2 linked regions of the Homo sapiens genome follow. The protein of the gene in region 2 interacts with the protein of the main gene of each other region in a biochemical or structural test. Each region holds a gene or a part of one and is shown on either strand. Other genes may lie near its edges.

Evidence for each region.
Region 1: the proteins of PLCG2 (region 2) and SH2D1B interact in a biophysical measurement, tested with the Homo sapiens proteins (one study listed by IntAct).

The regions. Positions count from the first base shown.
Region 1 is NC_000001.11:162,402,034-162,405,855, forward strand, and holds part of SH2D1B (SH2 domain-containing protein 1B), read right to left. Parts: intron 770-3,822; coding exon 706-769; intron 1-705. UniProt on the Homo sapiens protein: Cytoplasmic adapter regulating receptors of the signaling lymphocytic activation molecule (SLAM) family such as CD84, SLAMF1, LY9 and CD244. In SLAM signaling seems to cooperate with SH2D1A/SAP.
Region 2 is NC_000016.10:81,908,238-81,912,059, reverse strand, and holds part of PLCG2 (1-phosphatidylinositol 4,5-bisphosphate phosphodiesterase gamma-2), read right to left. Parts: intron 3,645-3,822; coding exon 3,469-3,644; intron 1,541-3,468; coding exon 1,340-1,540; intron 1-1,339. UniProt on the Homo sapiens protein: The production of the second messenger molecules diacylglycerol (DAG) and inositol 1,4,5-trisphosphate (IP3) is mediated by activated phosphatidylinositol-specific phospholipase C enzymes. It is a crucial enzyme in transmembrane signaling.

The sequences.
Region 1 (3,822 bases), on a different chromosome or scaffold from region 2:
ATTTTCGTACAACTATTGGGCACACTTGACTCCCTAAACACTCTGACCTCTTTCCACCGTCCCTTTCTAGCTCCATCTTGCATCATTGTTGAGTCTTCTAATTCAACGGAGGTTTTGCTTGGAGTCCAGGCTGGTGTGTTTGGCCAGTGGAGGAGCCACAGTGGAATAACAGTGAGGGTTATTCAAAAGTAGAACCCAGCTGGGTGCGGTGGCTCACGCCTGTAATCCCAGCAGTCTGGGAGGCTGAGGCCGGCGGATCACAAGGTCAGGAGATCGAGACCATCCTGTCTAACACGGCGAAAACCCTTCTCTACTGAAAATACAAAAATTAGCTGGGGGTGGTGGCGCGCGCCTGTAGTCCCAGCTACTTGGGGGGGCGGGGGCTGAGGCAGGAGAATCGCTTGAACCCGGGAGGCGGAGGTTGCAGTGAGCCGAGATCGCACCACTGCACTCCAGCCTGGACGACAGAGCGAGACTCCGTCTAAAAAAAACAAAACAACAACAAAAAAAGTAGAACCCAAGCCTAGAACCTTCCTATTTCTCTTCAGGGAAAAACCAGGTTAACTCGATCTGACTCTCATCTCTGCATTGTGCTTTCCTTTTTAGAATGCTTTCGCACAGTCATGGCTCAGGTAAAAGACATGTTCCCAGGTTCTTCTCCCCCAACTTTTGTGTTGTTGTTGTTGTCGTCCTTTTTGTTCTTACCTGTATCCTGTAATACCCGTGTTTCTCTCTGAAGATTCGGTATGTGTAGACAATATTTTTAAACCTGTGGAAAAAATGACTGTGTGAATCAAAATGTTCTATGCAAATCCAGGTAACATCTATCGTTATGTTTCATATGCAATACCTTTGTTAATCTACAATCCTAAAAAAACTCTTTTTTTTTTTCTGGGACGGAATATCACTCTGTCGCCCAGGCTGGAGTGCAGTGGTGCGATCTCAGCTCACTGCAACCTCCGCCTCCCGGGTTCAAGCGATTCTCCTGCCTCAGCCTCCTGCGTAGCTGGGATTACAGGCACCCACCATCATGCCCGTTAGAATGGCTATTATCAAAAAAGACAAAGGATATAGAGAAAGGAAAACCCTTGTACAATGCTGATGGGAATGTAAATTAGTATAGCCATATGGAAAACAGTATGGAGGTTCCTCAAAAAATTAAAAATAGAATTACTGGCCGGGTGCCGTGGCTCACGCCTGTAATCCCAACACTTTGGGAGGCTGAGGAGGGCAGATCACGAGGTCAGGAGTTTCAGACCAGCCTGGCCAACATAGTGAAACCACGTCTCTACTAAAAATACAAAAATTAGCTGGGTGTGGTGGCGTATGCCTGTAATCCCAGCTACTCGAGAGGCTGAGGCACGAGAATCGCTTGAACCCAGGAGGCGGAGGTTGCAGTGAGCCAAGATCATGCCACTGCACTCCAGCCTGGGCGACAGAGCGAGACTCTGTCTGAAAAAAAAAAAAAAAAAAAAAAAATATATATATATATATATATATATATATATATGTAATTACTATATAACCTCACTACTGTGTATATATCCAATGGAAATGAATCTAGTATGTTGAAGAAATATCTGCACTCCCACTTTTATTGCAATATTAGTCACAATAGCCAAGACATGGAATCAACCTAACTTGATTAATAGATGAATGAAGAAAGTTACACACACACACACACACACACACACACACACACACACACAATGGAATATTATTCAGCCATAGAAAAATAAAATCCTGTTACTTGCAACAACATGGATAAATCTGGAGGATGTTATCCTAACTGAAATAAGCCAGGCACAGAAAGAAAAATACCACATGGTCTCACTCATACGTGGCATCTAAAAAAAGTTGATATCATAAAACTAAAGAGTAGAATGAGAGTTCTCAGGCCTTGTCAGTGAGAGGGGGAGGATTAGGGAGATATTGGTCAAAGGATACAAAATTTCAGTTAAACAAGAGATCTATTGTACAACATGATGACTATAGTTAATAACCATATATTACGTTCTTAGGCAGGGCACAGTGGCTCAGGCCTATAATCCTAGCACTTTGGGAGGCCAAGGTGGGTGGATCACCTAAGGTCAGGAATTCAAGACCAGCCTGGCCAACATGGTGAAACCCTGTCTCTACTAAAAATACAAAAATTTGCTGGGTGTGGTGGCAGGCACCTGTAATCCCAAGTACTCAGGCGGCTGAGACAGGAGAATAGCTTGAACACAGGAGGTGGAGGCTGCAGTGAGCCGAGATGGTGCCACTGCACTCCAGCCTGGGTGACAGAGTGAGACTCCATCTCAAAAAAAATAAAATAAAATAATAACCATATATTATATTTTTGAAAAATGCTGAGAGGATATTTTAAGTTTTCTCACTACAAAAATGATAACTTGATGAGGTAATGCATATGTTAATTAGCTAGATTTAGTCATTCCACAACGTATATATATTTTAAAACATCACATTGTACAAAATAAGTACATATAATTTTATCTATCAAATAAAATAAAATGAATTAGATTGTATACTTTAAATATGTACAGCTTATTTTACTTGAATTAGACTTAAGTTTTTAAAAATAAAAAAAGTAAAATCTGCTGTTGAACCTCAATAAAAAAAGAAAAGAAAATACATGGATGGCAAATAAGCACTCGTAAAGATACCCAGTATCATTAGTCATTAGTGAAACGCAGATTCAACTCACAATGAGATACCACTACACACTTATTAATACAGTTAAAATGTAAAAGACTGACCGTTCCACATGTTGGTAAGGATGTAGAGCAATCAGAACTCATGTAATGCCCATGGGAATAGTGAGATCGCATGATCACTTTGGGAAACAGTTTGGCAGTTTCTTAAAAAAGATAAGCCTACATAGAACACACAACTTAGCTGTTCCAATCCTGATTATTTACCCAGGAGAAATGAAAGCATACACCCACACAAAGACTTAGTCACAAATATTCATAGCAACTTTAGCTGTAATAGCTATAAATGAGTAAGCAATTTGGGATGCATCCCTACAATGGAGCACTATTCAGCAATGCAAAAAAATGAACTATTGCTGCATGCAACCACATAGATGGATCTCAAAATAATTATTCCGAATAAAAGAAGTCAGATAAAAATGACTACATACTCTATGATTTGATTTACATTAAATTCTGGAAAAATACACATTAATCTATAGTGCCAGAAAGCAGTTTGTGGTGGCCCAGAGTCTGGGCATAGGTGGGAGGTATGTTGATGAGAAATTACAAAGGGGTGCAAGTGAAGTTTTGGAGGTGATAAATATGTTCATTATCTTGGCTGTGTTCGTTTCATAAGTGTACATACATATGTCAAAATCCATCAAATTGTACACTTTTTATTTTATGTCAGTGATACCTCAATAAAGCAGTAAGACATATTCATGGCATAAAAAGGTAGATGAATATAATTTATCTTTCTAATATATAAACTAAATTTTAATTCCTTATACATATGTGCTTTTGCTGTTTTCATGATTGGTTTTTGGCCTCAGATAGAAAAAGTGTTTCCTATTTTTGCAGTTATGTTCTCAATAAATATGTGGTGTCTTGACTCTCTGTGTGAGACTGATACCCAGTGGAGCCTACCTTTTTGTTTATTCTATGGAAATCGTTGTCGTCATTTATGAGAAATACACTGGACTTATAAAAAACATTTAAAAATCTTAGGCATTAATTTCTCAGTTGAGGTTCAAAAAGGCTGGAATACAGGACCTCTAAGTTTTCCCATATCTTTGAATTGTTTTACTCTATCTATTTAGCTTTCAAAGTGATCGTTCCATGAGGT
Region 2 (3,822 bases):
TTTGGGAGGTTGAGGCGGGTGGATCATGAGGTCAGGAGATCGAGATCATCCTGGCTAACACGGTGAAACCCTGTCTCTACTAAAAATACAAAAAATTAGCCAGGCATGGTGGCAGGCGCCTGTAGTCCCAGCTACTCAGGAGGCTGAGGCAGGAGAATCACTTGAACCCAGGAGGCAAAGGTTGCAGTGAGCCGAGATCATGCCACTGCACTCTAGCCTAGGCAACAGAATGTGACTCTGTCCCAAAAAAAAAAAAAAAAAAAAAAAAAGGAAATACAAAAATTAGCCAGGCCCAGTGGCGTGCGCCTATAATACCAGCTACTCAGGAGGCTGAGGCACAAGAATCTCTTGAACCTGGGAGGCAGAGGTTGCAGTGAGCTGAGATCGTGCCATTGCACTCCAGCCTGGGAGACAGAGCGAGACCCGGTCTCAAAATTAATTAATTAATTAATTAATTAATTAGCTGGGCACAGTGGCACACACCTGCAGTCCCAGATAGGAGGCTGAGGTGGGAGGATCACTTGAGCCCAGGAGCTCGAGGCTGCTGCGAGACGTGATTGTTCCACTGCACTCCAGCCTGGGCAACAGAGCAACACCTTGTCTCAAAAAATTGATTCATCTTCATCCACCCAAGCAGCCCAAACCTGAAAAGCCAGGCTCCCAGGGAGGCACAGTTATTGCCACGTGTCTCAGAAAATCGAAGACGGAGATCACAGCAGGAGTTTCACAAGGTTTTGGGTTGTTTTCGGGTTATTTCTTAAGATAAGAAATAGCAAGTTTTAAGAGGCAATCCATAGGAAAATGTGACAGAAAAAGTGAAAAAAAAAGTTGCTATAAGTAATACGGCCTCCTCGGAAATGGACATTTTTGCAGCTTTCTGCCTAAAAATTGTTTTTTCTTTATTCCCAGAATTTGTTGACCCTTCGCAAGACCTACCTTGATACTCATTTCACTAGATAAAAAAAATCAGCGGGAGACTCTTATAATCATTGTTTCCTTGTTCATTTTCAGAACAAACAGGAAGGAGCTCTGAAAGGTAAGAGAATATCCCCAGGCCAAAATGACCCTCTGAAAATCAAAGCCCAAAGTCTCGGGGCTATGAAGACAAAGTAGAAGAAAGGGAAAAGAGAAAAGGGGAGGAAAGAAAGAAAAGAGAAAAGGACACAGGTCATGGTGCCAGGAATTTGGAAACTGGCCACCTCGGCAATTTTGAGATGCCGGTGGGCTGGGGAGAGGGTGTCCTGGGGGACTGGCCCGGCTGAACCACCAGGCCAGCTTCTCTGCCTGGTGGAGCTAACCCGACCACCGCCTGCCTCCTGCTCCACCCTCAGACACGTACGGCTTGGACTCGTGGGGGTTGGGGTTGGGCACAGGGTCCGTGAGCCGCAGCTCGAACTCGGCGCAGCGCAGGTGCGTCTCGCGGTAGTGCTGGATGAGGGCATAGATGCTGCTGAAGGTGAGGTTGTCAGTCAAGTAGTATTTCAGGGTCCCGCCCTCCATGGTGGAGCGGATCCGGCAGTGCTGGACCCGGCCTGACCGCCTGCGGGGAGAGGACGCCATCAGTGCTGGGAGAACGCAGGCCAGGCCATTGCGGCAGCCAGGGCCTCAGAGGCGGGGACATTACATGTGGCCACACAACCTTCCCTCTGCTCCTAGAACAGACACAGGAGGCTGGGCGCAGTGGCTCATGCCTGTAATCCCAGCACTTTGGGAGGCCGAGACGGGTGGATCACCTGAGATTAGGAGTTCCAGACCAGCCTGGCCAATACAGTGAAATCTCGTCTCTACTAAAAATACAAAAATTAGCTGGGCATGGTGGTGCATGCCTGTAATCCCAGCTACTTGGGAGGCTGAGGCAAGAGAATCACTTGTACCTGGGAGACGAAGGTTGCAGTGAGCCGAGATCACGCCACTGCACTCCAGCCTGGGCGACAGAGCGAGACTCCATCTCAACAACAACAACAACAAAACCAGATGCAGGGCCTTAGTATAGGCTAGACCCTCAGCCTGGATTCCAGAACATTCTACCTACTTCCCCCACCCCACCCCACCCCATCCCCCTTTTATATATATAACTGCTTCTCTAGAGCCAGGATGCCTGGATTCAAATCCCAGCTCTGCCACATATGAACCAAGTGTCCTGGAGCAGGTCACCCGTGCTGTCTGAGCCACACTGTATTACTACCCCAGCGGTCTGACAGGAATGATAACAGTATCCACCTCAAAGAGGCATCCTGAAGAGTAAACGAGACCACACACACAAGGTGTCTCGAATACTGCCCAGCACATGGTAAGCATCATTTAGGTGTCCAGGATTATTTGCGTGTTATTAGTATTCTAATTTTCAGCCAGGTGCAATGGCTTACAGCTGTAATCCTAGCACTTCAGGAGGCCGAAGCCAGAGGATTGCTTGAGCTGAGTTCAAAACCAGCCTGGGCAACGTAGTGAGACTCCAGCTCTACAAAAAATTTAAAAGTTATTCAGGTGTCGTGGCATGTGCCTGTAGTCCCAGCTACTTAAATGGCTGAGATAGGAGGGTTGCTTGAGCCCAGGAGTTTGAGGCTGCAGTGACTGAGACTGCTCCATTGTACTACAGCCTAGGCAACAGAGCAAGACCCTATCACAATTTTTTTTTAAGTGACAGAATTATAATTTCCCTCTTTCAGGTCTCATCTTCTTTCAGGAAGGTTTTCCTAACCATTCCCCACGTCAGGGCATCAGAGCCTTCCTCACAGACTTTCACAAATCCCCCCAACTCACATTAAACCCCCCCAATAAAGGGAGGGATGTCCCTTTATGTTGCCTTGTTTCATTGCACTCATCACAACTATACTTGCAAATCATTTGAGTGACTGCTTTTTCATTGCCCATCTCCTTCAAAAGACGCTAGTGTCCAGGAGGACAAAGACATTGTCTGTCTGGCATAAGTACTGTGTCTAGCACAGGGCACGCCCTCAAGAAGTATCTTTTAATGCACTGAGACATGGATAAGTGGGTGGATGAATGAATGCACAAGCTCATCACAGCCTATGACGGCTTCAAAAGGACAGCCCTAGAGTCCTCGTTTTATGGAGGAGACAGAGATGCTAGAAGGTTGGCTGAATCATCCAGAGCCACATGACCCACTCCAGGGCTGGGATCGGGGAAAGTGAGTGAGACCACATCATCTAAGAGTAGGGTCAGATCTTGTCTTTGTTTAAAATGTTCATATTTTGTTCATCACAGACTTTTTTGCATTACTTTTGATTTTTTAAAAGATTGCCCTGAAATCTCATTAATCTGGGTTACAGTGCCGAAGTGAGTCATACCCACCTCACCCTTGTCCCGGCCTAGAAGAGCTAGACAAATGAAGCCTGGGATTCAGGTCCCAGCCTGCCCAATTCCTGCCTGAGCTAGAACCACTCGCCACCCTGCCTCATCGGTTGGCATGGAGAAGAAGGTAGGCGTTCCCTGGGTCGGGGGCATTACCAGAAGGACAGGGTGTAGTCATTGGGGAAGGTCTCGCTCTCCCGAACCAGGAAGGTGCCATCCTTGCCCCCCGTCTCCATGCAGTATTCCTGCAGCAACTTCTCGGCACTCGTCCTCTTCTCCACCTTCTTGTGGAACCATTTCTCCCCAAAATGTAGTTCTGTAGGGGGTATATCCTGGGCCGCAAAGAGAGGAGGGGTTTCTGAAAGCCTTGGACCAAACCCCAGCATCACTAGACAGGTCCTTCTGTCTCACCCTGACCCAGGGTACCAGATAACATAGAGAGGCCAGCCTCAGCTGGTCCCCACCCGAAGGGGTATGGGAAAACAGCACCTGCTACCCTCCTCTGCCTGC